3 separate regions of the Homo sapiens genome follow, and regions 2 and 3 are each linked to region 1. The links come from fine-mapping of genetic effects on gene expression. A gene starts in region 1. Each other region holds a variant in brackets. All regions are shown on one strand. Distances are from middle to middle.

Region 1 (10,437 bases):
TTTTCCACGGACTCGGGGGTGGGGGCTGATGGTTTGGGGATGAAACTGTTCCACATCAGATGATCAGGCATTAGACTCTCATAAGGAGTGCGCACCCTAGATCCTGTGCATGTGCAGTTCACAACAGGATTTGCGCTCCCAGGAGAATCTAATGCTGCTGCTGATCTGACAGGAGGTGGAGCTCAGGCGGTAATGCTCACTCACCTCCTCCTGTGCGGCCCAGGTCCTAACAGGCTGTGACTCAGGGGTTGGGGCTTCAACAACAAAAATTTGGACACTCCTGGCTTAAACAACAAAAATTCATTTTCTCACAGTTCTGGAGGTTAGAGTCGAAGATCAAGGTGCTGAAAGGCTTGGTTTCTCCTGAGGCCTCTGTCCTTGGCTTGCAGAGGACCACCTGCTCGCTGTGGCCTCATATGGCCTTTCCTCTATGCATGTAGATTCCTGGTGTCTCCTTCTCTTCTTCTTTCTTTTTTTTCCCTTGAGACAGGGTCTTGCTCTGTCACCCAGGCTGGAGTATAGTGGTGTGATGTCAGCTCACTGCAGCCTCTGAGCCCCCTGAGCTCAAGTGATCCTTCCACCTCAGCCTCCTGAATAGCTGGAACTACAGGCACACAACACCACGCCTGGCTATATACATATATTTTTTTCATATGTTTTATAGAGACAGGGTTTTGCCACGTTGCCCAGGCTAGTCTTGAACTCCTGGGCTCAAGTGATCCACCCGCTTTAGCCTCCCAAAGTGCTGAGATTACAGGTGTCAGCCACCACACCCAGTCTCTTTCTCTTCTTATACAGACACCCACCTTATGTCGTTAGGGCCTCACTTTTATGACCTGATTTAACCATAATTACTTACTTCCTATCTCCAAATACCGTCACATTGTGGGGTTAGGAATTTGACATATCAATTTTGGGGAGACATAGTTCAGTCCACAACAGGAGGAGAAAGAGAGGGGGCACTTTTCTTTATCTGCATGGAGCAACTTTTACCCAATCTGTCTGTTCGGCCTCCACCCATGACTTTGGGGATGAGGAAGGGCACTGTATTTAATGCTGTTTTAATCCACACAGCAGCCGTTAGAAAAAGTAGTATAAATCCCATTTTACAAATGAGGAAAATGAGGTTAGAGGGTGTGTTAATCCATTTTCACATTGCTATGAAGAAATACTGGAGACTGTGTAATTTATAAAGAAAAAGAGGCTTAATGGACTCACAGTTCCACATGGCTGGGGAGGCCTCACAATCATGGCAGAGGGTGAAGGAGGAGCAAAGTCACCTATTACATGGCGGCAGGCAACAGAGCATGTGCAGGGGAACTGCCCTTTATAAAACCATCAGATCTTGTGAGACTTATTCACTATCACAAGAACAGCACAGGAAAAACCCACCCCGATGATTCAGTTACCTTCCACCCGGTCCTTCCCACAACACATGGCAATTATGGGAGCTACAATTCAAGGTAAGATTTGGATGGGGACGTAGCCAAACCATATCAGAGGGCTTAAGTGACTTACCCTGGGTCACACAGCTAACAAATAGTAGAGATAGAATTCACACTCAGACACACTGCCCTGCCTGCTCTCCAAGGCTAGATCCACGAAATTTGTTTTGTCTGGTACCACGTGGACTTGACACTATAGGAAGGTTTTAATGGTAGAAGAAAAATGTCTGTAGAAGAGGAGGGAAAAGGAAGAAAAGGCTCTATGATCTGGAACTATTCAAATAAAAAAGATGGTGGAGCAATTGACCACAAGGCGCTAGAATGATGTGGCTGCTGAGGAAAGAAGGAAGGAAAGGGAAGAAAGCGAAAAAGTGAGACTGCATTATTCAAAGTCTAGTGCCCCGGCTGGGCATGGTGGCTCAAGCCTGTAATCCCAGCACTTTGGGAGGCCATGGCAGGTGGATCACATGAGGTCAGGAGTTCAAGACCAGCCTGGCCAACATGGTGAAACCCCGTCTCTACTAAAAATACGAAAAAATTCGCTGGTTGCGGTGGTGGATGCCTGTAATCCCAGCTCCTAGGGAGGCTGAGGCAGGAGAATCACTTGAACCTGGGAGGCAGAGGTTGCAGTGAGCTGAGATTGTGCCACTACACTCCAGCCTGGGTGACAGAGTAAGACCTTATCAAAAAAAAAAAAAAAAAAAAAAAACTCTATTGCCCCTGTAATTGTAGCTCATATTTATTGAGTACCTACATGTTGTCAGGGCTTTACATATATTAACTCATTTAATTCTCATAACCCTACATGGTAGGTACTATTATCCCTATTTTGTAGATGAGAGGAAACTCAGGCACAAAGACATATAAATTTCCCAAAGCGCACCAACTCTAAATGGCAGTGCTGGGCTATACAGACTTTACAGCACAGTGCCTCAAACTCTGCATTGCTCAAGGGGGCTTAATATGACCTGACATACTTCTGGGTTTTATCAGAGGGACTTCAAGAAATGTGAGCACTTCTACAGGGAGGTGGACTCAAGATAGTGATAAGATGAATAATATTTCTTGCGTACTGTCTATATGCAAAGCACTGTTTCACATGCTTTGTATATAGTAACTGCTTTAATCTTCACAACTATAGGAGATAGGTGCCATTATTATGCCCATTTTACAGATGAAGAGACTGAGGCAAGTCACAGAAAGAAAAAAGCCCAGTGAAATTCTTGTGTTTCTCCAGTAGAACAGCAGCGTTGAAGGAGCAACTTCCCTCCCACTTGACCTCTGAAGGGCTGCCCTAGGGGAAGAGAGAGGGACATGATGGCAGAGGTACCCATTGCTGGGGATACTTCTTGCTGGGGATTAGGGTCAGGATGCCCGCTCTGGGTCAGGGTTAGACTCAGTGACCCCTAAGGACCTTCTAGCTGTGAGACTCTGCCCACTGCTCTGGACAGAGGAGGAACTAGGGAAAGAAGTGAGACTAGGAAGAATCTTGATGCCAACTGTTTCCCCAGTGTCCAGTGAGCAAACTCCTGACTCCTAAAAGAGGAAGGAATAGACCATTCACTTTCTTTCATCTGCCTAGAACATGGGATCTTTTTTTAAAAAAATAGTTGGGTACATAGTAGGTGTATATATTTATGGGGTACATGAGGTGTTTTGATACAGGCATGTAATGTGAAATAAGCACATCATGGAGAATGGGGTATCCATCCCTTCAGGCACTAATCCTTTGAGTTACAAACAATCCAATTATACTTTTTAAGCTATTTAAAAATATACAATTAAGTTATTATGGACTATAGTCACCCTATTGTGCTGTCAAACAATAGGTCTTATTCATTCTTTCTAGCTATTTTTTTGTACCCATTAACCATCCCTATCCTCCCACTACCCTTCCCTGCTTCTGGTAACCACATGCTTCTACTATGTCCATGAGTTCAACTGTTTTGATTTTTAGATCTCACAAATAAGTAAGAACATGTGACGTTTGCTTCCTGTGCCTGGCTTATTTCATTTAATATAATGATTTCCAGTTCCATCCATGTTGTTGCAAATGACTGGATCTCATTCTTTTTTATGGCTGAATAGTACTCCATTTACATATATGTACCATATTTTCTTTATCCGTTCATCTGTTGATGGACACTTAGGTTGCTTCCAAATCTTAGCTATTGTAAACAGTGCTGCAAGAAAAACACAGGAGTGCAGATAGAACCTGGGATCTTTATTCATGTGGCGAAAATTTATGGTGGTGCCTGCTGGGTGCCTGACAGGGGCTGGAGATGAGTATTCTCCAATTCAGCTCAAGGAACCATTTGTTGAGCATCTACTATGGGCTGGGCTGAAACTTTGGTATCACATTTACTCCCCTCAAAATCATTTTACAAATGCAGAAACACACTCAGGCACAGGTATTATTATAAGAAACTTTTCCAAGGGTACCACCCGGTGAATGCCTGAACTGGTTAATTTCAAAGCCGTGGTCACCTAGCAGAACTTGTCCCCATTCTCCTGGGAGAGCCGGGAGCTGGTGGGGCTCCCCCCTGCCTCCCTCCCGAAGCCCTCCTGTTTTCACAGCTACCTCTCATCCCCTTCTCAGGAAGGCCCAGAGTGCTGGACCCCAGGCTAGGGTGGGCAAGGATGAGGAGTGGGGACAGAGGCTGGCATATGAGGCACGGGAGAGAGGTGGGGAATTACGGGACGCCGCTGCCAGGGCTGCAGTGGGAGGAGGGGTGTGTCCCCTACTTCGGAGGGGCGCTCGGGCTCTGTGGAGAGAGCGCCATGCGGGAGGCGGGCCCGGGGCGCCCTCGCTCGGCGGGCACAGGTGCGCGGGTGCCATGACGACTGCGCCTCACGAGCCCCCTCCTTCCCCTGGTCGGGAGGCGAGGGGCGGCGGGCGGCTGAGCCCTGCGGGCAGCAGCGCTGCGCGGGAGCCAGTCAGCCCGAGGGGAGGGAAACCGGCCAGGGCCCGGGGCCTGGGAGCGCACGCCCCCTGCTCACCTCTGCCCGGACCGACCGGACCTGCGGAGCGCGGAGGCAGGGGCGCAGCCCGCAACCAAGTGCCCGGAGACCGTCCCTCTGCCCGCTGGCCCGAAGGGGCCCGCTGCCTCCCGCCATCGGAGACCGCCGGAGCCCGCAACTGGGGGCATCATGGAGGGTGAGTGGTCCTGGGGCTGGGGGCCAGCCGTGGGGCAGGGTACCGACTCCGGGGCATGGGGCGAAGGGAGAGGAGAGGGCCGGGCAGCTGATCACCCATGGCTGTCCAGAGCCAGACGTTGTGACACTCTGTGTGTGACAGAGACAGAGACACTGAGTGAGGGAGAGAGACCTGGGGTGCCCATGTGTTCATGGTGTGTGTGTGTGTGCGTGTGTATGTGAGACAGAAAAACAGACAGACAGAAAGAGACAGATGGAGAGAAAGACCTGGGGGTGCTCTGTATTCATGTTGTGCCTGTGTGTGTGAAAGAGAGAGAGAGAGAGAGACAGAGACAGAGACATAGAGACAGACACTGAGAGAGGGAGACAGAGACAGGCAGAGAAACACTTGGGGGTGCCTCTGTATTCATGTTGTGCTTGTGTGTGTGTGTGAGAGAGAGAGAGAGAGTGAGAGAGAGAGAGAAAGACCTGGGGTGCCTCTGTATTTGTGTTGTACATATGTGTGTGCATGTACAAGACACACACACACACACACACAAAAAGAGAGAGTCCCTGTTGTGTGTGTGCACGCACACAATCCCTGCTGTCTGAGCAGAGAATCATTTGAGACCAGGTGAGGACAGCTTGGCTATTAGCTTCAGAAGAATTGTCACCGACTTTGTCTGCTTGAAGGGGTGGGGTTGTTGGGGAGATGGGATTCTAGAGGTGATATCCTCCATGTAGAGAGAATTTCTCTCCCTAAGGAAAGGAGAGTGAACTATGGACCTTACCTTCAGGATTTTAAGGGATAGCGGACCAAGGCATAAGGCTGCTTGCTCCCACTTTACCAGAACCCTCTCTCAGCCATTGTGGACAAGGGGAACCATATTTAGGCTAAGAAACTGGAAAACCAAGGGCTCGTCCACTGTCTTGCTGGGTGTCTTTGAGATAGTGCCTAAACCTTTCTGTGCCACTGGTCACCCATCTATCGAATGGGGGAACTTAACATTCAGCTGGCTTCAGAGAGTGTCTGTGAGGATAAAATAAGATATGTTGTACAACACGCCAGTATGAGGCAGCTGTGGCAAGAGGTAATAAAACCCCAAAATTCCAATTAGTAATTGCAAACACTGCTGTTAAAAAATAAAATCAAGTTTTATAGAAAATCTTGTGAGGCTGCACTTGTAGTTTTCCAATGAGCCAGGGTATGAAAAGCACACACACAAAAGAGGCAAGAAGGAATCAATAACCCAAGAGGAATCTGGAAGATTGGCAGATCTGTAAGAATGGCGTTAGCAAAGCCCTGAAGCTCCAGTGAACAGAAGTCGGGGGAAATTGGCAAAGACAAGAGCAAAAAGCTTTCAAAGTCTAAGAATAACAAGAAGGAATCTGCTCTGGCTTAGGCTCGAGGGCAGGCAGAGCAAGATACAGGCAATTTTACTTCAAATTGTGGAATAAAGAGGATAAGGAGGAAATAGAGACCCAAGATAGTCAAGCGATAGGAAGAAGACATCAAGTTACCTACAATGAGCTCACTCATTGAAGCCCAGACATATGACATCCCAGCGACCCAGAGGTATTTACAGATATAATCATTGCTTTTGAGGAAACTACAGAGAATGAAGGAAGTGCCAGAAAACTGAAGATGGGCAAATGTCCTGATTTTCAAAAAAGGGAAATATAAATTTTTTATCTAAAAAGCCTCTACACTGCTAAGATTAGTTTTGACCTCTATTAAAATTCCAGAAGAAATGACCAAACACAGTGTACACTTAGGAGACAACAACGCACTCCCTCAGCTCAGAATTTTTTCAAATTCTGAGCTGCACACTTGCAAAGATGTGTGCCTGAGCATGTTCATCACAGTGCAAAATTGGAAACCATCCAGATAGCCATAAATTATGTAAATTAAATAAAAAATGAGACACTTCTGCAATGGCATACTATGCAGACATTAAAAACTGTGCTTAGGATTTTCTTTATTGACATGGAAATATGTTCACTACCCACTGTGAGTAATTAGAAAAAAAAACAGGTTTTTGAATGCATGTGTAGTGTGATCCCCTTTATGCAAAATTACATAGGTTTATTATTGGAAATATACATATACAAGTGTATACGCAAAGAGGTAGTCACTAACATCTTTGTTTGATTCTCCTGCTTCTGAAAGCAGACCCTAAGACAAGAGCTTGGATATAGGGAGTCTATTTGGGAGATGATGCCGGGCAGTGGAAGTGAGGGAATGAGGAGAGTGAGATGAAGAAGGGAGAAAAGGCAAGAAATGGGTGCCTTAATGAGCTGGTTTTAGCTGTGGGCAACTGGGGGGTTCTATCCTGCTGGGGACACTCTGAGAAAAGTGCAGGGTGAACCCGAGGTTTACCCCACCTAAGAGGTGGCGTTGGCTGCTTCACCTCCCCACTGGTCTGGTATTGCCCCACTCCTGCAGTTTTGGGTTGTCCCTTTTTGTGACTTCAGAGGAAGCAGAGCAGAGAGACTCCCAGGTGCAGACCTGGTGGGGTGCTAAAAATTTGAGGAACCATTCACCCCAGCTGAAATCTTTGGGCCAATGGGATGTGGCAGGCAGAGAGCATCACAAACATAGGGGTTATCTCTGGATGTGAGGGTTCTGTCAGGTTTACTCTCTCTTTTGCGGTGCTCAGAATTCTTTGTTGTTGTTGTTGTTGTTGTTTGAGACGGAGTCTCGCCCTGTTGCCCAGGCTGGAGTGCAGTGGCGTGTTCTCGGCTCACTGCCACCTCTGTCTCCCAGGTTCAAGCAATTTTGTTGCCTCAACCTCCTGAGTAGCTGGGATTACAGGCATGTGCCATCATGCCTGGCTAATTTTTGTGTTTTTAGTAGAGACAGGGTTTCACCATGTTGGCCAGGCTGGTCTTGAACTCCTGACCTCGTGATCTGCCCGCCTCGGCCCTTCAAAGTGCTGGGATTACAGGTGTGAGCCACTACGCCCAGCCTAGAATTCTTTTATAATAAGCACAACAAAACAAAAAAGCGTTTTCAAAAAGAAAGAAAATAATGTATTGTTCATTAGGAGCCTATATTAGTACTCACTAAGAACAAATCCAGGAGCTCAAACAACTCAACAGCAAGAAAACAAAAAACCCAATTAAAACATGGTAAGAAATCTGAATAGACATTTCTCGAAAGAAGACATACAAATGGCTAACAGGTATATGAAAAAATGCCCAATATCACTGATGATTAGGAAAATGCAAGTTAAAACCGCAATGAGACATCATCTCATACCTGTCAGGATGGCTTTTACCAAAAAGACGAAAGATAAGTAAGTGTTGTTGGAGATGTGGAGAAAAGAGAACCCTTGTGTGGTGTTGGTGGGAATGTAATAAATTTGCACAGTCATTATGGAGAATAGTATGGAGGTTCCTCAAAAAGCTAAAAACGGAATTACCATATGATCCAGCAAGTTCATTTCTGGGTACTTACCCCAAAATCTGAAATGAGTTACTTGAAGAGATGTTTGCACCACCGTGTTTATTGCAGCGCTATCCACAATAGCCAGGCTATGGAATCAACTAAGTGTATATAAACCGATGAATGGATGAGGAACATGGGGTATGTAAACACAATGGAATACTATTCAGCCTTTAAAAAGACAGAATTGTGTCATTTAAAACATCATGGACAATATTGGAGAACATTATACTACGTAAAATAAGTCAAGCACAGAAAGACAAATACCACATGTTCTCACTTATATATTGAATCTAAAACTATAGAACTCATAGAACCAGAGAGTAGAGTGGCTCTGTGGTGGGGGAGAATGGAGTGATGGTGGTCAAAGAGTACAAAATTTCAGTTAGACAGAAGAAATGGTTTTCTTTTTTTGAATTCTATTGCACAGCATGGTGCATAGAGTTAATAATAGAGTATTGTACATTTCAAAATTGCCAAGAGGGCCATGTGCAGTGGCTCATGCCTGTAATCAGAGCACTTTGGGAGGCCAAAGCGGGAAGATCATTTGAGGTCATGAGTTCGAGACCAGCCTGGCCAACATGGTGAAACCCCATCTCTATTAAAAAATACAAAAATTAGCTGAGTGTGGTGGCACACACTTGTAATCCCAGCTACTCGGGAAGCTGAGGCAAGAGAATTGCTTAAGCCCAGGGGGTGGAGGTTGCAGTGAGCTGAGATTGTGCCACTGCACTCTGGCCTGGGCGACAGAGCAAGACTCCATCTTAAAAATAAATAAATAAATAAATAAAGATTGAGTTTGGGTGCAGTGGCTCACGCCTCTAATTCCAGCACTTTGGGAGGCTGAGGCAGGCGGATCACCTGAGGTCAGGAGTTTGGGACCAGCCTAGCCAACATGGTGAACCCCCATTCCTACTGAAAATACAAAAATTAGCCGGGTGTGGTGGTACACATCTGTAATCCCAGCTACTTGGGAGGCTGAAACATAAGAATCGTTTGAACCTGGGAGGCGGAGGTTGCAGTGAGCCAAGATCTCTGCACTCCAGCATGGGTGACAGAGCGAGACTCGGTCACACATACAAAAAAAGATTGAATCTTACTTAAAAAAAGCAAAAACAAAAACTAAATTTCAGATGTTTTCACCACAAAAAATGTTAAGTATTTGATGGATATGTTAACTGGCTTGATTTAATTACTCCACCTTGTATTCATAAATTATACCATCGCTTTTTATCCCAAAAATTTATATAATTATAAATTGTCAATTTGCAATAAAAAACTTAAAACTTATTTTAAATCTAAAAAAATATAAAAATCATGTCAATACCATTTGGAGCAACTGTTCATAAGACACAACTGGCTGGTAAATGTTTTTGTAACTCTATCCAGCTGTTAATTTTACATAGCTATTCACAGTGTGCACGTTTTACTAAATAATATTTCCAAAACAAACAAAAGAACAAATCAAGCTAAACCTACAGATTTCCTCTTCCAGAATGGGTTTCTGAGAGGAAAAATGATGAATACGAAAGTTCATCAGGACACTGCCAAGATCTCTCAGAAAAAACTCGTGAATTGATTGAGAGACGTAGGAGGGATACTGGAGGACCAACAATGGGGGCTTTATGAAAGGTTTGATAGCAGCCTAGGGGTCCCTAGAACTCCAACCCTGATATGACATTAATTAATAATTTAGGGGGAAAATAAAAGGCATGCTTATGAAATCTGTGGCTAGGAGCTGTAACACCCACAAGGCAATAAAGTCAAGATTTAAGGTTATCTCAACATACCAAAATGCTGGATTAAAACCAAGAAAATGAAAGGTACATGTAAGTGAAATGTAAAGTCCTGAATTTAGGTCTCAAAAAATTAATGGCTTACATTCAAGATGGGGGAGATCTGGCTTTTATTCTTCAGGAAAGTTACGGGGCAGGGTGGGGGGTGGGTAGGGGAGGTCCCAAAACACACTGACTATGAGATAGGTCTGGAGTCCCTCTTGCTGGATACCCTGGGACGTGGGGAGAGGGGGATGATTCTGGGGACAGGGGCTCACTCTTGTTCTGGCTCCTGGGAGCAGAATTGGGACTGGTGAGGGAAGGTTGCAGTAAGACAACTCAACTCAACCTCAGGAAGAACTTTCTATCACTCAGGGCTGGCCCAGCATCTGTCTCCTCACCAGTTCCCATATCCAGCTTGAGCAAGTGGAGGCTGACAGGTCTCATGACTGACTAGGGGACAGAAAAGATAATTATTGGGTGGCTGGATTAAAACAATGGCCTGGAGGGTTCTCTGAGGGCCCAGAAGTCTTCCCCAACATCTAGAGACAGACACTGCAGTCTGCCAAGCCCCCTGCAGAGTTGCTATGGTTAGCCGGGCAGTAACCCTCATTTGCCTTCCCCTCTGGGCCTT
Region 2 (10,437 bases), 82 kb before region 1:
CCTAGAAGCACGTCTTCTGTTAATGTCTCAGCCCTGAGGGCTTCTGTATATGAATTAAGGGCTGTGAATATTCAAATCCTAAGTATTAACAGGTCTGTGATTTCAGAATCTTAGTGGAGATTTTTGTTTTTTAACAATTCAGTGCCCAGGCAAAGACTAAACTGCTTGTTGTCTTATCAGGTAGTAGATTTTTATTATTTTATTATTTTTTATTATCAAGTAGTAGATTTGGCTCATTAGAGCCTCCACTTCTCAGGTTCAAGTGATTCTCCTGCCTCAGCTATCCCCAAAAATTAGCTGGGCACCTGCCACCATGCCCAGCTAACTTTTGTATATTTAGCAGAGATGGGGTTTCGCCATGTTGCCCAGGCTGGTCTCGAACTCCTGACCTCAAGTGATCCACCTGTTTCGGTCTCCCAAAGTGCTGGGATTCAGATTCTCTATTTTTGATCTTTTGGACTTGCCCTTATTAAATGCCAGGCATCGTGGTAAACAGTTTGCTGGTTTTAACTCATTTAATTCCCCATGACAACCCTATGACAAAGGTGATGTTAATACTCCCATTTTACAGATGAGGAAAGAAAGGTGTGAGAAACATCTTTTATCCAGTGTGTATGTATGGTTTTTTTTTTTTTTTTTTTTTTTTTTTTGAGACAGCGTCTTACTCTGTCACCCAGGCGCTGGAGTGCAGTGACACCATCTCGGCTCACGGCAATCTCTGCCTCCCAGGTTCAAGTATTTTATCTGATGTTTTTAAGTGTTTTGTTGTACAAGGGTATTCAACTTCCCTCCTCTCCTGCTTTGCTTTTGCAGTAGTTTTCCTCTGTTTTATAGCTGCTGGAGCTAGGCTGAGTGTAGGTGACCTGCTGGTGACACAGCTGTTTGGAGTGGGAGCAGAGTTCATAGGTCAGCCTAGGGCACAGCCCTGCTTTTCCCCATCCACCCTGCTGCCTGCCCCGAGGGATGGGGGTGGGGATGAGGAGGAGGGCTGAGAGAACTAAGCGAGGCCAATGATGTGAACCTCCCTCTTCCCGCCTTCTCCCACCCACACACCTGCCTCTCCTCCCAGGTCTTCTTGGAACCACAGTGAGCCCACCCTGTTCCTTGAAAAGGAGGAAAAAAAGCAGAGGTGAACATCTACCTTTGTATTTAAGATTTACATCATTGTTAGGCTGTCTTGAGTTAAAGAAACAATGGGGACAGCCCCCATGGACTGCTTTCATGGGCAAATGTCCCTCTGTCAGTTCCTTCACTCCTGCAGGATTTTCTGAAGGGTAGGTCCTGGGTAACCAACATCAGGATTGTAGGAGTACTGGTTAAAAATGCAGATTCAGGCCGGGCACGGTAGCTCACACCTGTAATCCTAGAACTTTGGGACGCTGAGGCGGGCAGATTGCCTGAGGCCAGGAGTTCGAGACCAGCCTGGGCAACACGGTGAAACCCCATCTCTACTAAAATACAAAAACTTAGCTAGGCGTGGTGGCATGCACCTGTAGTCCCAGCTACTCAGGAGGCTGAGGCAGGAGAATTGCTTGAATCTGGGAGGCGGAGGTTGCACAGTGAGCTGAGATCATGCCACTGCACTCCAGCCTAGGTGACAGAGCAAGACTCAGTCCCCCCTGCCGCCAAAAATAAATAAAAATAAAACCTCAGTTCATTTCAGAAAAAAAATGCAGATTCAGGCTGGGCGCGGTGGCTGATGCCTGTAATCCTTGTGGTGGGTAGATCACTTGAGGTCAGGAGTTCAACACCAGCCTGGCCAACATGGTGAAAACTGTCTCTACTAAAAATGCAAAAATGGCCGGGCGCGGTGGCTCACCCCTGTAATCCCAGCACTTTAGGAGGCCGAGGCAGGCGGATCACGAGGTCAGGAGATCAAGACCATCCTGGCTAACACAGTGAAACCCCATCTGTACTAAAAATACAAAAAATTAGCCGGGCGTGGTGGTGGGCGCCTGTAGTCCCAGCTACTTGGGAGGCTGAGGCAGGAGAATCATTTGAACCCGGGAGGCGCATCTTGCAGTAAGCTGAGATTGTGCCACTGCACTTCAGCCTGGGCGACAGAGTGAGACTCCGTTTCAAAAAAAAAAAAAAAAAAGCAAAAATTAGCCAGGCATGGTGATGCATGCCTGTAGTCTCAGCTACTTGAGAGGCTGAAGCTGGAGAATCTCTTCAACCTGGGAGGTGGAGGTTGCAGTGAGCCAAGATTGTGCTACTGCACTCCAGCCTGGGTGACAGAGCGAGACTCCATCTCAAAAAATAACATAACATAACATAACATAACATAACATAACATAGGCAGATTTATGGGCAATACTCCAGAGCTGTGAAAATAGAATCTGTGAGGGCGGGGGCTGGTAGTGTGGATTTTAGCAGGCCTCCCAGATGATTCTGCCATGCCTTGATCTTATGTATTTTATTGTTATAATTTATATATATAAAATTTACCCTTTTTAGTATATAGTTGAGTTCTGACAAACATATGTTTTTATAACCAACCACAACAAGACTCAGAACCTTTTTATCACCTCATGCTCCCCTGCAGCCAAACCCTCCCCATCCCTGGTACCTGGGAGTCACTGATCTCTTTTCCATCGCTGTGGTTTTGCCTTTTCTAGGATATCATGGAAATGGAATGATAGAGTAAATAAGCTCTTGAGCCTGGCTTCTTTCACTTTAGCATCACGTGTTTGCGATTCATCCATGTTTGGTGGGAATCAGTAGTTTGTTCCTTTCACTGCTGAACAGCTTTACATGGTGTGGGTGTTCCATGATCCGTTTATCCTTTCATCTGCTGAAGGACATTTGGACTGTTTCATTTTTTAACATCACGAACAAAGCCTGTAAACATTTGCATACAGGTTTTGCTGTGAAGCAAAGTTTTCTTTTTCTTTTTCTTTTTCTTTTCTTTCTTTTTTTTTTTTTTTGAGACCGGGTCTCACTCTTTTGCCCAGGCTAGAGTGCAGTGCAGTGGTATGATCTTGGCTCACTGCAGCCTCCGCCCCCTGGGCTCAAGCGTCCTCCCACCTCAGCCTCCTGACTAGCTAGGACTACATGTGTGCACCACTGTACCTGGCTAATTTTTGTATTTTTTGTAGAGATGGGGTCTCCCTGTGTTGGCGAGGCTGGTCTCAAACTCCTGGGCTCAAGCATTCCTCCTGCCTCAGCCTCCCAAAGTGCTGGGGTTATGGGCACAAACCACGGCATCTGGTCAGTAAAGTTTTCATTTCTCTCAGATAAATACATAGGAGTAGGATTGCTGGGTTGTACAGTTGTCCCTCCATATCTGAGGGGATTGGTTCCGGGAGCCCCACAGATACCAATATTCAAGGATACTCAAGTCCTTTGTATAAAGTGCTATAGTATTTGCATCTAACCTACACACATCCTTTTGTATACTTTAAATCATTTCTAGATTACTTATAGTACATAATACAATGTAAATGCTATGTAAATAGTTGTATTGCTTTTTAAAATTTGTATTATTTATTTATTTTCAAATATTTTCTGTGTTTGGTTGAATTTGTGGGTACAAAACCCACAGGTATAGAGAGCCAACTCTATATATTAAGTATATGTTTGACTATAAAAAACTACCACACTCTTTTCCAAAGAGATTGAGAGCTCCAATTGCTTCACATCCTTTTCAACACTCGGTATGTTTTTTACTTGTATACATTCTCTAGGGTGTAATGTATCTCATTGTAGTTTGATTTATTTTTTCTTTTTTTATAGTATTAAGAGGTGTATCATTGTAGTTTTAATTTACAGTTCTCTGATGATGAGTGATATTGAACATCTTTTATTTTTATTTTATTTTATTTTTTTTTTGAGACAGAGTTTCACTTCTTGTCACCCAGGCTGGAGTACAGTGGCACAATCTCAGCTCACTGAAACCTCCGCCTCCCAGGTTCAAGTGATTCTCCTGCCTCAGCCTCCCGAGCAGCTGGGATTACAGGCGCCTGCCACCATGCCTGGTTAATTTTTATATTTTTAGTAGAGACGGGGTTTCACTATGTTGGCCAGGCTGGTCTTGAACTCCTGACCTCAGGTGATCTGCCTGCCTCAGCCTCCCAAAGTGCTGGGACTACAGGCATGAGCCACGTTCCTGGCCGACGTTGTACAACTTTTCATGTGCTTGTTGGCTATCCATTCGTTTTTTGTTGTTGTTTTTTTTTTTTTTTTTGAGCTGGAGTCTTGCTCTGTCACCCAGGCTGGAGTGCAGTGGCACAATCTCGGCTCACTGCAGGCTCTACCTCCCGGTGTTCACGCCATTCTCCTGCCTCAGCCTCCTGAGTAGCTGGGACTACACGCGCCTGCCACCTCGCCCAGCTAATTTTTTGTATTTTTAGTAGAGAGGGGTTTCACCGTGTTAGCCAGGATGGTCTCGATCTCCTGACCTCGTGATCCGCCCGCCTCGGCCTCCCAAAATGCTGGGATTACAGGCGTGAGCCACCACACCCGGCCTATCCATTCGTTTTTGATTAAATCTCTATTCGAATCTTTTGCCCATTAAAAAACATTGGGTTTTCTTTCTTTTTAGTTTTGTTTTTTCGAGGTGGGGTCTTGGTATGTTGCCCAGGCTGGAGTGCAGTGCTGTTCACAGGCACAATCATTGCACACTGTAGCCTGGAACTCCTGGGCTCAAGAGATCCTCCTATTTCAGCTTCCAGAGTAGCTGGAACTACAAGTGCATGCCACCTGCCTGGCTCACATTTTTAATTTTGATGAAATTTAATTTATCGTTTTATCTTTTATACATGATACTTTTGGTATTGTATGTGAGAAGTCTTTGCCTAACCCAAGGTCAAGAAGATTTTCTCCTATCAGGATCATTTGGTTATTGGTTAAGCATGCAGATCCACGGACCCTATTCTAGAGCTTTAAAAGTTGAATCTCGCCGGGCGCGGTGGCTCGCGCCTGTAATCCCAGAACTTTGGGAGGCCGAGGTGGGTGGATCACGAGGTCAGGAGTCCGAGACCAGCCTGACCAACATGGTGAAACCCCGTCTCTGCTAAAAATACAAAAATTAGCTGGGCTTGGTGGCACACGCCTGTAATCCCAGCTACTCGGGAGGCGGAGGCAGGAGAATCTCTTGAACCTGGGAGGCGGAGGTTGCAGTGAGCTGAGATGGTGCCACTGCACTCCAGCCTGGGCGGCAGAGCAAGACTTCATCTCAAAAAAAAAAAAAAAAAAAAAAAAGTTGAATCTCAGAGAGGACCTGGTGATCTGAATTTTAACATGAACTGTGTCTGATTCTTCTTTGCCTTGAATTTTGAGAATCACTGGCTTACTGTTTGCAATTTGGAGCTTCCTGTCCTGATGGCTGCTGCGGGGTGGGGCAGGGGCATTGCCTGGCAGGGTTCTGGATGTGCATGTGGGAGATGATGAATAAATACGGACATGGATGTGATGTGCTCCTGGGGAGGGACCTGAGCAGCTAGGCTGGGAGCTGTGGAATCAAACAGGGAGACCAAGGCTAGCGCGAGGGGTGTGTCCACCTTTCGTCCCTCCCGGGCCCACCTGCGCTTTGGCTGAGCGCTTGCTTCTTTCTGTACTAGC[C/T]AGCAGATGGCGCCCTGTCACAGGCCAAGCCAAGGACCGGAAGCCGAGCCCAGGGACCTGGCCAGGCTGTTGCTGGGTGAGCTGTTGCTGGGTGTTCTGACCAAGGCTTCCACTCCCTTCTTGTGTTTATGTTCCTGTCCAACCCCTGCAGGGACCTGATGTTGCAACCCCTTTTCTGAACAAGAGTACTCAGGAAACACTTAATAGATACCCACTGAATCACAACATTTTCTTCGTTCAGAAATTGCCACTGGCTCCTCTTTCAAAAAACACACTTTGAGCAGCTGCTGTGTGTGCCCTGCCTGGAGGGCAATGCATGTGCCCGGGAGTGCCCAGTCTGGAGGGGAGGCAGACATCGCTCTAGCACACTCTTACACTGAAAGGGGGCTGCCAGGGACTGGAGTGGGAGCTGCTTTTCTGGCCTGGTGGGGTGGTGATCTTGGCCCTCACCAGGGCTTGTTGGCCTGTAGTTCCTGGCCCAGAGCTGAGGCCGGCATCTGGTAGGGGTGAGGGGAGTGTGTTTTGCTGTGATGTTTCCTGGCCTGGCGAGTCCTGAGGGTCAGCCTGGCACAGTCCAGCTCTGAGAGCATGGGGGAGGGACTGCGTTCTCACACAGCAGCTCCCAGATGGCTGGGGCTGCCTGGCTTTGTTTGCCACAAGGGCTGAGGCCTCAGATCTGCCATCCTTGGCTCTCTGCCTCTCGCAGGAAGCAGGTGGGAGTTTACCAGGGAGGAGAGGGGGCTGGAGGTCCCCACTGCAGGGTCTGTGCTGCTCTCCCAGGGGGACTGAGCTCCTCTGTAAGGAGACAGACCTTTCCCAACTCTGCCTCCTCTGTGGTGTGCTGTGTTGGGGGTTGACTTGGAGCCTTCTGCCTAGCATGCCACCTCTAGACTTGCTCTGTCTGGATTGGGGCTCCTGGGAGGCTAAGAAAGACCCTTCTCCCTCTTCTCCTGTGCCCCCTGGGGAGGGCTTTCTTCCCTTGAGGGCTCTGCACCTATTTGAAAGGAAGGCTTTGTATCCCTGGGTGGGCACTTCTCTGTCTTGACACCTTTGGTTTTTGAGCTGGATAATTCTTTGTTCTGGGGAGCTGTCCTGTGCTTGGTAAGATGTTTAGCAACATCCTAGCCTCTACCCACTTGAGGCAAGATGCCTTAGTTCATTCAGGCTTCCATAGCAAAATATGAACAGCAGAGATTTATTTCTCACAATTCTGGAGGCTGGGAAGTCCAAGATCAAGGCACTGGCAGGCTCAGTGTTTGGTGCAGGTCTGCTTCCTGGTTCATTAACAGATGTTTCTCACCATGTCCTCCGTGGGTGGGGGGCCAGGGAGAGACTTTTCTGGGGTTTCTTCCTTCCTCCCTTCCTCTCTCTTTTTCCTTCCTTCCTTCCTTGAGAGAATGTTCTGGGGTTTCTTCTCCCCTCCCCTCCCCTTCCCTCCCCTCCACCCTTCCCTCCCTTTGCCCAGGCTGGAGTGCAGTGGCTCAAACTCTTAGGCTAAAATGATCCTCCTGACTCAGCCTCTCGAGTAGCTGGGACTACAGGCACACATCACCATGCCTGGCTAATTTAAAATTTTTTTTTTTTTTAATAGAGATAAGTCTCACCATCTTGCCCAGACTAGTCTCGAACTCCTGGGCTCAAGTGATCCTCCCATCTCAGCCTCCCGAAATCTTGAGATTATAGGTGTTACAGGTTTGAACCACTGCACTGGCCTGGGGGTCTCTTTCATAAGGACACTAATCCTGTCCATGGGGGCTCCACCCTCACGACCTAATCACCTCCCAAAGGCCCCACCTCAAATGCCATCACATTAGAGATTAGATTTTAACCTATGAATTTTGGGGTGACACATACATTCAGTTGATAACACTAGTAGCACCCCCTGCCCTCACTCCACCCCCAGTTGTAACAGCCAAATTTGTCTCCAGACATTTCCAAATGTCCCCTGGGGGCAAAACTGCCCCCCTTGAGGCACGCTGCTCTGGGAGGTCATGTCTGTAAGGGGCCAAGCCTGGCACTGGGTGGAGTCAGCTCTGTCAGGACAGGGCTCACGCCAAGTGAAGCTGGGTGAGGTGAAAAGATGAGAGTTCTGTTTTACAGGAGGCTGTGGTCCAGAAATGAGGAAGCTGGGGTTCTGGTCCTCACTCTAACTCCCCATTGCAGGGCCCAGTTCTCATCTGTCAAATGTGGGACTCCAGCGCTGACCTTTAGCAGTTCTGTCTGTATTAAACCCTCATCGGCTTCTTCTACACAATGAGTAAAACCCAAGATCATACCACAAAGCTGTGGATGACCTGACACTTGCAAAATTCTCTGACTGCACTTTGAGTAGCTTGGGGCTTCCCTCATCTTTACAGCCCAGACTATCAGTCCTTTGAACTATTAAGCCTTTCTAGCCACAGGCCTTTGCACATACTGTTCCCTTTGCCTGGGATGCTCTTCCCTGTTCTTCACGTGTCTGGGCCCTTCTTATACTTTAAGGCCCAGCCTAAATGCTTCTTTTTTTCTGAGACAGAGTCTTGGCTCTGTCACCCAGGCTAGAGTGCAGTGGCACGATCTCAGCTCACTGCAACCTCCGCCTCCTGGGTTCAAGTGATTCTCGTGCTTCAGTCTCCTGAGTAGCTGGGATTACAGGCGTGTATCACTATTGGCTAAATTTTTGTATTTTTAGTAGAGACGGGGTTTCACCATGTTGGCCAGGCTGGTCTCGAACTCCTGGTCTCATGTGATCCACCTGCCTTGGCCTCCCAAAGTGTTGGGATTACAGGTGTGAGCCACCATGCCCGGCCTGAATTTAAGATCTTTTTAACTGGCATCTGCCTCAATCTCAGTTGACTGTTTTTGGCTAAGGTGCTTATTTTTGTCGTGCTCCAGTTCATCCTCGAGATTCCTGGTTTTGTCACATTCACTCCGGCAGATGTGTATTTACTGTGTCCTGTGTCTGTGTACCGTTCTGCAGAGGATGGGATGGGAGGGTGAGGGTGGGGGAGGGAGCCAATGACTGGGCCCCGGCAGGTGTGCCTTCAAGTTGTGCACTTGCTGTGATTTCCACCTTGATCGTCCTTTCCCCAAATCTTTGTATGCCCTGCTCTTTTTTTATTCTTTTTTATTTGTTTGCTTCTCTTAACACTGTACCTCTCAGATCTTATCCTTTTTATTCTTGTCTCAGCTAAATGTCACTTCCTCCTAGAAGCCCTTCCTGATCACCCTAGTGAGGGTTGCCCCTGCCCCTGCCTCAGTTACCTGCTCTCCCATTATACCGTTTTGTTTTCTTGAGGGCAGTTATCACTGCTTGCCATTCCCTCATATACTGCCTTCTCGCCACACTAGGGCGTAAGCTCCCTGAGGGCAGAGACTCACTCTCTCTTGCTCACCATCATATCCTCGGACAGTGCTGGCATATAGTGGATACTCAGGAAATATTTGTCTGATGAGTGAGTGCATCTGATTTTCCCAGCTCTGGAGAGGTGATATTTCATGTCACTTATCAAAGGAGAAACTGAGGCCTCATGAGCTGCAGTGGTTTGTGTGGACGCTCACAGCCAGCAAATCTTAAAATCTTGTGCTGAGATTTGAACTTGAATCTGTTGGCCTCCTGTGCCTTCATTCTCTCTTTCTCTCTCTCTCTCTTTTTTTTTTTTTTTTAGAGATGGGGTCTCACTCTGTCTTCCAGTCGGGTGCAGTGGCATGATCATAGCTCACTGCAGCCTCAACCGTCTAGGCTCAAGTGGTCCTCCCACCTCAGCTTCCTGAGAGTAGCTGCGACTATAGGCGTGTGCCATTATGACAGTTCCCATACCCTCTTTAACATGCCACCCATTTCAGTGGGACCTAATTTCTGCCCTCTGGGAGCTCTCTGCCCTGCTAGGAAGAGTGAGACAAACACGTTGACAACTTTCATGTGAGACACAACGGGATAGGGACCCTGACAGAGCTGGCAGAAATGCAGTGGGCCCAGTGTGGTGGCTCACACCTGTAATCCTCGCACTTTGAGAGGCCAGGGCGGGAGGATCACTTGAACCCCGGAGTTCAAGACCAGCCTAGGCCATATAGTGAGACCACTGTCTCTACAAAAAAACTAAAAGAAAAATTAACCGGGCAGGGTGGCGTGAGCCTGTAGTCCCAGCTACTCAGGAAACTGAAGCAGGAGGATCACTTGAGCCTGAGAGGTCTAGGTTGCAGTAAGCTATGATCATGCCACTGCACTCCAGCCTTGGCTATAGAGTGAGACCCTGTCTCAAAAGAAAAGAAATGAAGAGCAAGAGAAGGAGGAAGAAGAGGAGGAGGGGGAGGAGGAGGAGGGAGATGGGGAGGAGGAGGAGGAGGAGGAAAGCAATGAGGAACCAGGTGTGGTGACTCACACCTGTAATCCCAATGCTTTGGGAGGCAGACTGGGATCACTTGAGGCCAGGTATTTGAGACCAGCATGGGCAAGATAGCAATACCCCATCTCTAGTAAAAACAAAAATAAAAGAAATGCGGATGGGCGCAGTGGCTTACGCCTGTAATCCCAGCACTTTGGGAGGCTGAGGCGGGTGGATCATGAGGTCAGGAGTTCAAGACCAGCCTGGCCAAGATGGTGAAACCCCGTCTCTACTAAAAATACAAAAATTAGCCGGGTGTGGTGGTGGGCACCTGTAATCCCAGCTACTCGGGAGGCTGAGGCAGGGAATTGTTTGAACCTGGGAGGCAGAGGTTGCAGTGAGCCGAGATCACGCCACTGCACTCCAGCCTGGGCAACAGAGGGAGACTCCACCTCAAAAAAAAAAAAAAAGAAAAAGAAAAAAAATGCAGTGGAACAACGGGGGTTCAAGGGCAGGAGCAATTACATTAGTTGAGGACATGAACAGAGGCTTAGTGGAGAGGAGGCATTTA
Region 3 (10,437 bases), 68 kb before region 1:
TGATAGCCACTGGCTGGAGGGCCTCATGCTCAGCTTTCTTCTCTGAGGCCAACTCTCTGTAGCACATTATTTCCTAGAGAGGCAGGGGCTTCTGCAGCAGGACGTGAGAAGGCACCTCTGAGATGCAGGATTCGTGTGTGCGTTTGTCAGAGGGGTGTCCACACAGCCCTCTGAGCGTGCGGCTGCTCTCCCCAGCAGCTCCCGTGAGCTTTGCCCTGGCAGGACTTTAGCTCTGTTCCCTATGTCCCCATCAACACCCATCTCCACTGATCCAGGTTTTTGGGCGTTTGAGGAAAAACATACCCCAAGGGTCACTGCATGTTGGGGATGTTCCTTTCTTTAAACTGGAGATATTTGTAAGAAGTCATTAAGTGCTTGTAAAACTCTTGCACAATATACAAGTCCATGAAATAGGAAGTGAAAGAAAAAAATCCCCCTAAACCCACTGGCACTTTCAAGTTGAGTGGTTTCCCCACGTCTCAGAAGACGCGCCTTCCCGAAGTGCCTTTCTGCCCTTCTCTTCCCGACAACCCTCCCGGGCCCAGTAGCTGTGTGTGCTATTGCGGTGGGACTTTCTGGACGTATGTGGTCCTCGGTGAGCTCTTCCTCCCATGCCCTTTTCTCTATAAGGGGCATGAGACAGGAAACAGGCTCAGAAACATTGCTCTAGAGATCGGGAGTAAAACACCCCCAAAGACCTGAAAGTGGTTGTCCCTGGGGGAGGGGATTTGTCAAGAGGGAGCAAGTCCGGCTGCTTTTTGTCTTAAGCCTTTTAGAGCCAGCCAGCTCTGTAAGCACTACAACAAACAGCTTTGTTAAAGTGATGCCTAATTGTGCCCAGTGATGCACGGCACGATCCCTTGATGAGCAGTTGTTTTGCTCGCTGTCTGCATCCTGTGTGTCCCTACTTTGGAAATTGAGTGACATTTCAGAGACTGGCAGCTCAAGTCATGGGGGGCTCCTGTTTGACAGAGGGCTGTCTGAAGAGCCTTTGTTTAGTAGAATCATGGAGTCAGAGGATGTCTGGTCTGGTTGAGACCCCAAATCATCTAGTCCAAACCCTCATTTTACAGATGAGGGGACAAGGCCCATGAAGAAGTAGTGTCTCTGAGCTCCCCCTGGCTGATAGTGGAGGGGCTGGGATAAGAATTAGGCCTCCTGAGTTACAGCCCAGGGCGGCCTCCACACCGAGGGTCACGTGTGCCTCTGAGTACCAGAAGCATGAACAAAGCGAGAGAAGAGAGTGAAGAGACTCTGTCTCTGCTGCTCTGTCCTGAAATAGTCTGCTCAGAGGGGAAGCAGGAGGAACCCAGGGCACAAAAAATTTCCATGAGCGTGTAAACCTCATGCCCTTAGGCAGGCAGGAGCAGCCAGCACTCAGTTACTGTCATTACCACCCCATTATCATCATCAATACAGGAAGCAGCTACATCAGGAGGAGGCCTGGCCCCTCTAGGCCAGTGATGCTTCAGCTAAAACACAGATGCCTGGGCCTTACCCCCAGAGTTTCTGATTCTGTGGGACTGGGGTGGTGCCTGAGAATGTGCCTTTCTGACAAGTTCTGGGGTGATGCTAATGCTGTGGGTGATGCTGATGCCCTTGGAGAACCACTGCACTGGAGTAGCCCTTGCTACTTAGTGTGGTCCTTGGACCTGCTGGGTGGAAATGCAGACTCTTACGCCCCACCTAGACATGTGGCATCAGAATCTGCACGTTGGCAGTGTCCCCAGGTGTCACACTTTAGTTTGAGAGGTGATGGTATGGTGCAGAGTTCACCTGGCTGCACGTTAGAGTCACCCAGGGAGCTTTTACCCTCCCTTCCATTCCCAAGCCCCAGCCCCCACTAATTAAATCAGACTCTCTGGGAGAGAGACTTAGGCATCAAGAGTCTATAGAGCTCCCAAGGTGGCTCCTGGTTGTGGCCAAGTCCTAGAATCCACAGTGGCAGCTGCAAGGGGCCTTGGAGATGATCAGTTGCAATTTACCAAGATTTGAAAACTAAGGGCATAAGGACCCAAGGTCCCACAGACAGTAAGTGACAAATCCAGGCTGTTGATACCCTGATGACTCTTTCACCAGCTCTTTCAACTCTAAGTCCCCTTTTATATAGTTCCATGGGAACTGCAATATACTAGTGTTCCCAGGGAACCCATTGTAAATCATGGAAGATCTATCTGCTCATTGGAAACCCACCACCTCCCAATCTGTTTCAGCATGGCAGGCTGTCCTGAATGCGGGTTACATATTCTAGGGAGGCAGTGTAGCATGGTGGTTAGGAGCAAACCCTTAAGCTCAGCAGCTTACTAACCAAGACTCCTGGCTCTGTGTCTTGATTCCTCCTCTGTACAACAGGAATAGTAATAATAGTGCCCATCTCATGGATCATCTGAGGTCAGGAGTTCGAGACCAGCCTGGCCAACATGGTGAAACCCCTTCTCTACTAAAAATACAAAAATTAGTTGGGCGTGGTGGTGCATGCCTGTAGTCCCAGCTACTCAGGAGGCTGAGGCAGGAGACTCACTTGAACCCAGGAGGCGGAGGTTGCAGTGAGCCGAGATTACACCACTGCACTCCAGCCTGGGTGACAGAGTGAGACTCTGTCTCAAAAAAATAAAAAATACAAAATAGTGCCTGTCTCATGGGGATGTTGTGATGTTGTGGGGGTTAACTGAGTTAATGCATGACAAGCTGAGATCACTAATTGCAAGCAGCAGGCACTTTGTAAATGTTTTTTATTATTTCATTAACTGGTTGACCTTGAATAAGTCATATGACTTAGAACAATTTGTTTGACTTCTCCATGACTCAGTTTCCTTAACTGTTAACCAGGGGTAAGCATAGTAGTGACCTATTTATAGGGTGGTTGTGAGGAATGGAGGGAATAAAAGGTCTGAAGCCCCAGCACAGCTTCTGGAACACACCTGGTGTCAATCAGTGGTGGCTGCAGTTATGTGTTAGAGACTCAACACCGGTGCAGGAGAAAGTTCTGGCCAGGCCAGAGTCTGAGCTAGGTTGGTCCTGCTCCTCTCACGGGAGCAGCCAGAACCATGAGGATTGAAGTTTCTGGGGATGTTTTTGCCTGGAAAAAAGTTTATAATGTTCTGTGGTTGCCAGCAGCTGGGGGATGGGAAAATAGGGGGTTAACAAGTAAAGAGTTTCCGTTTCGCAAGATGCAAAAGTCCTGGAGATTAGTTGATTGCACAACAATGTAAATATACTTAAAGCTACTGAACTGTACATTTAAAAATGGTTAAGATGGCACATTTTAAAAAATATTTAATTTTTAAAGGGGAGTGTTAGGTTCACAAGGTTCACAAGCAAAATTAAGAGTTAAGAATAGAGATTTTCCAATATACTCCCCACTGCCCACAAACAGGCATTGCCTTCTCCATGATCAACATCCCCCACCAGAGGGGCATATTTACTACAATTGGTGAACCTACGTTGGTGCATCATTGTTACCCAAAGTCCATGGTTCACATTAGGGTTCACTCCTGGTGTTGTACAGCCTTAGGCTCAGATTAATGTATAATGACATGTGTCTGCCACATGTCACTTTCACCGCCTGAGAATCCTCTGTGCTCTGCCTGCTAATCCCTTGCCACTGATAAAATGCTACATTTTTTTTAGCAGTTTTTAAAAGGAGGATTTATTTGACAAGTTTCACTTAGCACAATATACCTAAAAGGAAGTCACACTACAATGAAAGATTTAAATCAAGGCCTCAGAATTTCATACAAACACCAAGGCCAAAATTCTAAAGTATTGGTATTGCGTTTCAGATTTTTCCCATTAACTTAAAAAAAAAAAAAGCTTAAACGTACATGCCTTACAAGTTATTAAGTGAAACTAGAATTAACAAACATGCCAAAATGTTTCTAGACACAGCTCCTACCTTGAGTTTTACAAAAAACAAAGCATGTCTTTCCACATGCATCCAGTGTTCAGTGTAATGTGGCAAAGGGCAACATTTAACATAATTCAACTTCTTTCACCTAAATATGCTTACTAAGTACACCCTATAATATAACTAACTTGAGAAAAGCTGGAACTTGCTCAACAGTTGTAGTTTACTCGGCTTCACTGTTACATCCTAGATGAGTATTGTGTTAAAAAATATTGAGCCTTAAGTCTTCATAACAATCCTGATTTCCACTAGAGAGTAAGCATAAATCACAAGCTTGTATTGCAGAAACTGTAAAGTTGACCAAGAGTCAGTGATTAGGATCGATCAATTACATTTCCCTCCACAACTCACACTGGACGTGTTAGACATCCCTCCCATTCCTCATGCCTATAGATGCATGGCTTCCATGATTCTAGTTGCTGCTATTCATTGCTCCTTGGCTACTTATGCAATGTTTGATTGAAAATCACGGGAGTTTTCCCGTAAAACTTGGTCATATCGCTCGCTAAATTTTTGTTATGTGTATTTTACAATAATTAAAAAGAAAATGTTTATAATGTCCTTTGTCATCATTTATGTGAAGGATTGCCATGCAGAAGAGAGGGCAGCAGGACTGGTGAGTGGTGAAGGGTGGCAGTTATTAATACAGTTCGTTAAAGAACTCTCTAACAATTAAACTCATTCTATGGAAGGAGGAGGGAGCCCTCCCATCACCAGTGTTCAAGGAGAACTCTATGACCTCAGATGGAGACATGGAGAGATTTCAGGCCTCAGATTGGAGGCTGTGTTACTCAGTGTTTCCCAAGTTTGCCTATTGATAAGAATCACCTGGGGATATTGTTAAAAACAAATTTCATGGCACCATCCCAGATTCACTGAAAGGTAGAATATCTGGGGGAGGATGAAAGGACCAGCCTCTTCAGATGATTGTCTCTTTTTTTTTTTTCTTTCTGAGACAGGGTCTCACTCTGTCACCTAGGCTGGAGTGCCATGGCACGATCTCGGCTCACTGCAGCCCTGACTTCCTAGGCTCAAGCAATCCTCCCACCTCAGCCTCCTGAGTAGCTGGGACTACAGGTGTGCACCACCATGACTGGCTAATTTTTTATTTTTCTAGAGACAGGGTCTCACTGTGTTGCCCAGGCTGGTCTCAAACTCCTTGGTTCAAGCAATCCTGCCTCAGTCTCCCAAAGTGCTAGGATTACAGGCATGAGCCACTGTGCCCAGCCTTCAGTTGATTCTAACTCAGAAGTTTGGCAAACGTCGGCCAAAGGACCCCCGGTCTCCTAACCCTGAGATTCCATGAAGAAAGCTTCTCAGTGGGAGTGGGTCACACTGGCCACAGAGTTCCTCCAGTAGCCTTGGGAGCCTTACTTCTTGGCTAGGTCACAAGCCCATGTGCCTACTGGCCTGAGTCCCTGACACCCTCGCCTCTGGGCCCTGTGACTTGGTTGGCAGGGAAGTCCTGCTCCATTTCCCACTCTTGGGCCCTGTCACCAGGCCCACTTCTCAGCAGGGGCTGGCAGGGGTCAAAGTTCTATATTTCTAAGTCACCATGCAAGCTCAATCAGGCGCTCCTGAATTCCAGCTGAGTGTTCTGTCTTCTTGGATTTTGCTCCTTCTGCCCTGGTTCTGCCCACTGATTACTTTTCATCAAGCATTCATTAGAATTAA[C/T]GAGATAAGCTTTAATAAAGGACCCAAGCAATTTGAATAAAAGGCTTCTTTATTAATGCAAAAAACTGTTCTAATTAGAAGTTTGGGGACATGCAGTTTGGTCTTCTTGCAATAATAATTGTAATTAGGAGGATCATCACAGCTTGTGTTTATTGTACTGCTACCGCCTCCCCCAAGGATCTTTCTGTTCCCTGCTGCAGCCCAGGTGTCAGTGGCTGGGGCTGCTAGGGAAAGTCTAGCTGCTGTCTACATGGTGCTGGAGGAGCCTGGCATTGCCCCTTACCTACCATGCCATTCCTGACCCCTGTCGGGGTCTGTGACCGCCATTTAGCACTAAATGATTCCAATGCCAGGAGCCTTCTTCTCTGAGCATTCATGCAGCATGGGCGAGGCTCTGAGAAAGTGTAGAAGAAGGCAGAGCTCAAGGAGGGAGTCCCAGAGGGGTGACAGTCCTTTGCTCATGCTGTGGCTCACTCCTGGGTTCCCTTCCCTCTCTCCTTTTTGTCTGTAGAACTCTCATCCATCCACCTGAATCTAGGGTGACCCTAAACATCCCAATCTGCCAGTGACTGAGGAGGGATTCCCCAGGATGCAAGACTCTCAATGCTAAAATTAGGAAAGTCCTGCTTAAACTGCCCTACTCGTCACCCTACTTGAATCTTTGGTTTTGAATCTTTGCATTCAGATCCCATCACTGTACCACAATGACCATGGACAATTTACCTATCAACATGTGCCTCATTCTCCTGCTGTGAGGGTAACTCAGGTTGTCAAAGGAATTAAATGAGTTACTATAGAAAAAGTGCCTAGAACTGTGTCTGGCACATAGCAAATACTCAGTGCTGTTAGCTGTGTTTATTTTATTTATTTATTTGTTTATTGAGACAGAGTCTTGCTCTGTTGCCCAGGCTGGAGTGCAGTGGCACGATCTCTGCTCACTGCAACCTCTGCCTCCTCGGTTCAAGCAATTCTCCTGCCTCAGCCTCCTGAGTAGCTGGGATTACAGGCACGCACCACCACGACCGACTACTTTTTGTATTTTTATTAGAGACAGGGTTTTAACATGTTGGCCAGGCTGGTCTCGAACTCCTGACCTCAGGTGATCCACCTGCCTCAGCCTCCCAAAATGCTGGGATTACAGGCATGAGCCACCATGCCCAGCCCTGCGCTTATTAACTTGAATGGGACCTTTGAGATCACCAGCTTGGCCTCTGCTGGTTTAGGAATTCTCTCTGTGGAGACTCTGCCTGACCATGCTGCTTGATGCGGTCCTCACGTCCTCACCCAGGAGCCTTTTCTTTATGCCTTGGTGAACTATATACTGTCTGTGCTGAGGACCCATAGAGAATGAGACCTTCTCGATGACATCCCACAGCTCTTTGAGGACCACTCTCTCCTGTCTGCAGCCTGGATCTTCTCTTCCCTGGGTGGGGCCCCCCTTCCCTAGTGGGACCTGGCCCCCAGTCACATCTTGGCTGTGTTCTCTGGCAGCAGTGCCGTCTGTTCCTATAAACTCAGGGCCCAACATTGAACTTGGGGCTCATGGGGCTTTTTCCTTCTGCAAACTGGTAGAATGGGTATAGATGGTGCCCAACCTCTGAATTAGACCTGCAGAGGAATTTCCAGAGAACAGAAGGTGACTGGCTCGTGCAGAAGGCTGTTGGCCCCTTTCCCCAGAGGCATTGAGGGCTCTGAACTTGAAGGGCCTACAGGAGTTTGTAGACAAGACCTCGGTTTCCCATGGGGGAGTTCAGCATATACTCCCTTTCTCTGGCCTGGCCTAGAGCCAGGCACCTAGGCATGTTTTTGACTCAAGGGGGCAGTAGAGTGGAGTGGTTGGGACCCCTGGCTTCCTGATCCACCTAACCTGGATCCAAATCTCCCCGTCCTCACTTCTAGCTATATGACCTGGGGCAAGTCACTTTATTACAGTCTCCTGTGTGCAGAGGGGATAGTTCGTACTTACATAGCACATGTGAAATAGTAAGTGGTGTTGTTTATGGTTGTTATTATTCCCATCCCCCGTGTGTGGCATACAGCATATTGCTCCTTGTGTACAGATGGGAACATGACTGTGTAAGGATGATATTTGCTCCTGGATCTCCATTTTCTTGTCCCGGGACCATGGAGAACTGTTCTGGAGATCATGGACCTCTCCTCCCAGCAGGGGTGAGAGTCCATGTGCTGTGTTAGTGGCTGGTGATGGGGCTGGGATGAGGGGTGTTTGCATCACATCCCAGCAGGGCCCTTCTGTGGAACTCCTGGATTGCCTTTGACGTTGGTGGCAGCCAGGCTGTTCTGGGTAGGAGCTTGGTGGTGCACCCCTCTCATGCATCCTGGCCTCTGGTGGGTACTGGAGGGGTCACATAATGGAGAAAACAGATGGAATCCCTGGGGACACAAAAAAGTCATAGGTAAGTCACAGGATACTGTGCAGATCAGTACCTGGCACACAGGAGGGCCTCGATAGCTATTTGTGGAGAGTGAAAGAAAGAAGCAGGTGTCGGAGGTGACATTCCAGGCCCTCGGCATCCTCTAATGTGGCCTTGCGGTGTGTCAGTTGGCCAGATGAAGCCGCAGAGGGCTTGTATGTTGCTTGTTTTTTGTGTGTGTGTGTTTTTTGGGTTTTTTTTTTTTTTTGAGACGGAGTCTCGCTCTGTTGCCCAGGCTGGAGTATAGTGGTGTGATCTCGGCTCACTGTAACCTCCTCCTCCCAGGCTCAAGCAATTCTCCCACCTCAGCCCCCCAAGTAGCTGGGATTATAGGACGCGCCACCACACCCGGCAGATTTTTGTATTTTTAGTAAAGATGGGGTTTCACCATGTTGGCTAGGCTGGTCTTGAACTCCTGACCTCAAGTGATTTGCCCGCCTCGGCCTCCCAAAGTGCTGGGAATTACACACGTGAGCCACCGTGCCCGGCACTTGTATGTTGCCTAAATCAGAGACTGGAAGGGTGGGTGGTGTGAGGTTGGGATGGTGTGTAGATGGCCCAGGTGGTCGGAATGGGACTGTGGGCTGGACATTTCTGGGCTGATCTACTCCGGAAAGACAGGCTGCTTTGAGTACCCTTGGAAATAACTTGCATGGCTTTATGGCTTCTTCCTCCGTTGTAAGCACTTTCTCTCCCTACTGTGGGGAGTGGTGGTCCCTGAAAGCTCCTATTCACAGCTCTGCCCCAGCCCAATGCAGAGTTCCTGTGTTTCTTGGATCTGCTTTTCCCTATTTCCCTCACTGACGAAGAGCTGGCTGCCCTCAATTTATCTGCGAATTTGCCAGGTTATTTTTTCCAATAAAAGTTAACTTTAGCACTTAGGGAACATGAGGCAGGTGGATCACTTGAGGCCAGGAGTTCAAGACCAGCCTGGGCAGCATGGTGAAACACTGTCTCTACTAAAAATACAAAAATTAGCAGGGCATGGTGGCATGCACCTGTAGTCCCAGCTACTTGGGAGGCTGAGGTGGGAGAATCACTTGAGCTTGGGAGGTGAAGGTAGCAGTGAGCCGAGATCACGCCACTGCCCTCCAGCCTGGGTGGCAGAGCGAGATCCTGTCTCAGAAAAATAGCTAATTTTATGATACATTAATTTTTTATTTTAAAAGTAAAGTATCACTGTATACAGATACTTGGCAAATGGTTTTATATAAATATAGAATGGTATTTTACTTACTTTGTATAAAGTAAACAACCATGAAGACTATAATTTAGTAACAAATTGCTCAAATCCTTTGAAATAACCACTGTTAGCATTCTGGTTATTTTTCTTTCTATTGTCTTTCCCAGGCATGTATCCTTTTATACCTAGTTGGAATTACAATGTGCATATGGTTTTTATGTCCTGCTTCAGAAAAAAACCCTACGCTCTGTAACATGAATGATTCAACAAGAGAAACAATCAACACACCTGGGTTGATAATACTATTTAAAGAGCTCTACAAACATTTGGGAGAAAAAAATGCCAGAGCTCCAAGTAGAAAAATAGTGAGACATGGATAGGATTTTCCATAGGGGAAACAAATGGTTAATTAATATTTACTTTATTTTATTAGAGATAGGGTCTTGCTCTGTTGCCCAGCTTGAGTGCAGTGATGCAATCATAGCTTACTGCAGCCTTGAACTGGACCCAAGTGATCCTCCCACCTCATCCTCCCGAGTACCTGGAACTACACACAGGCACCACCACGTCAAGCAAATTTATTTTATTTATTTATTTTTTTGAGACAGAGTCTCTCTGTCATTCTGTCGCCTAGGCTGGAGTGCAGTGATACAATCTTGGCCTCCCGGGTTCAGGCAGTTCTCCTGCCTCAGCCTCCTGAGTAGCTGGGATTACAAGCGCCCGTCACCACACCTGGCTAAATTTTGTATTTTTAGTAGAGATAGGGTTTCATCATGTTGGCCAGGCTGGTCTCAAACTCAAGTGATCTCCCTGCCTCGGCCCCTCAAAATGATGGGATTACAGTGTGAGCCACCATATCCAGCCGTATTTTATTTTTTGTAGAGACGGGTCTTGCTGTGTTGCCCAGGTTGGTTGTGAACTGGCCTCAAGTGATCCTCCAACCTTGGGGATTACAGGTGTGAGCCACCATGCCTAGCTGAAAAACAGTTAATTAACCATGAAAGACAGTCAGTCTCATTATTGAAAATATTGCAAATTAAAGCAGGATACCATTTCCCTTGATCAACTTAGCAAGGCTTTCTTTTCTTTTTAATGATTCTATTATTTGTTGGATAGGTTACATGTAAATTGGCATAAATATTCTGGAAAGCAATTTGGAAACACATCAGGAGCTATATATTTGTTTACTAATTATGTTTTTTCCTTTGTAAATATCTTACGTCCTTTCCTTCTCAGGTGGT

Which allele goes with the higher level. Positions count from the first base shown, and alleles are read on the strand shown. Sizes are in standard deviations (SD) of each study's normalised expression. Not every link is listed here.
As copies of C replace T in region 3, the expression in anterior cingulate cortex of the gene that starts at base 4,268 in region 1 goes down (large effect, 1.2 SD a copy in GTEx).

What was found. PIP is the estimated chance that this variant, and not a neighbour inherited with it, causes the effect.
Region 2: its variant is fine-mapped to the expression of NPFFR1 in cerebellar hemisphere (GTEx, PIP above 0.99).
Region 3: its variant is fine-mapped to the expression of NPFFR1 in anterior cingulate cortex (GTEx, PIP above 0.99).

What each region holds. Positions count from the first base shown.
Region 1 is chr10:70,277,835-70,288,271 of GRCh38, reverse strand. NPFFR1 (neuropeptide FF receptor 1) reads left to right here and starts at 4,268. Exons shown (of 4, transcript NM_022146.5): 1 at 4,268-4,602. The coding sequence starts at 4,596. RefSeq lists an enhancer at 4,560-5,061.
Region 2 is chr10:70,359,819-70,370,255 of GRCh38, reverse strand. All of the region lies in intron 2 of LRRC20 (leucine rich repeat containing 20), which reads left to right. Among named protein-coding and RNA genes, the nearest start is that of LRRC20, 18 kb to the left of the region's middle. RefSeq lists an enhancer at 855-1,356. The variant C/T (reference allele first, on the strand shown) is at 5,563.
Region 3 is chr10:70,345,603-70,356,039 of GRCh38, reverse strand. All of the region lies in intron 2 of LRRC20 (leucine rich repeat containing 20), which reads left to right. Among named protein-coding and RNA genes, the nearest start is that of LRRC20, 32 kb to the left of the region's middle. RefSeq lists enhancers at 165-374, 595-694. The variant C/T (reference allele first, on the strand shown) is at 5,582.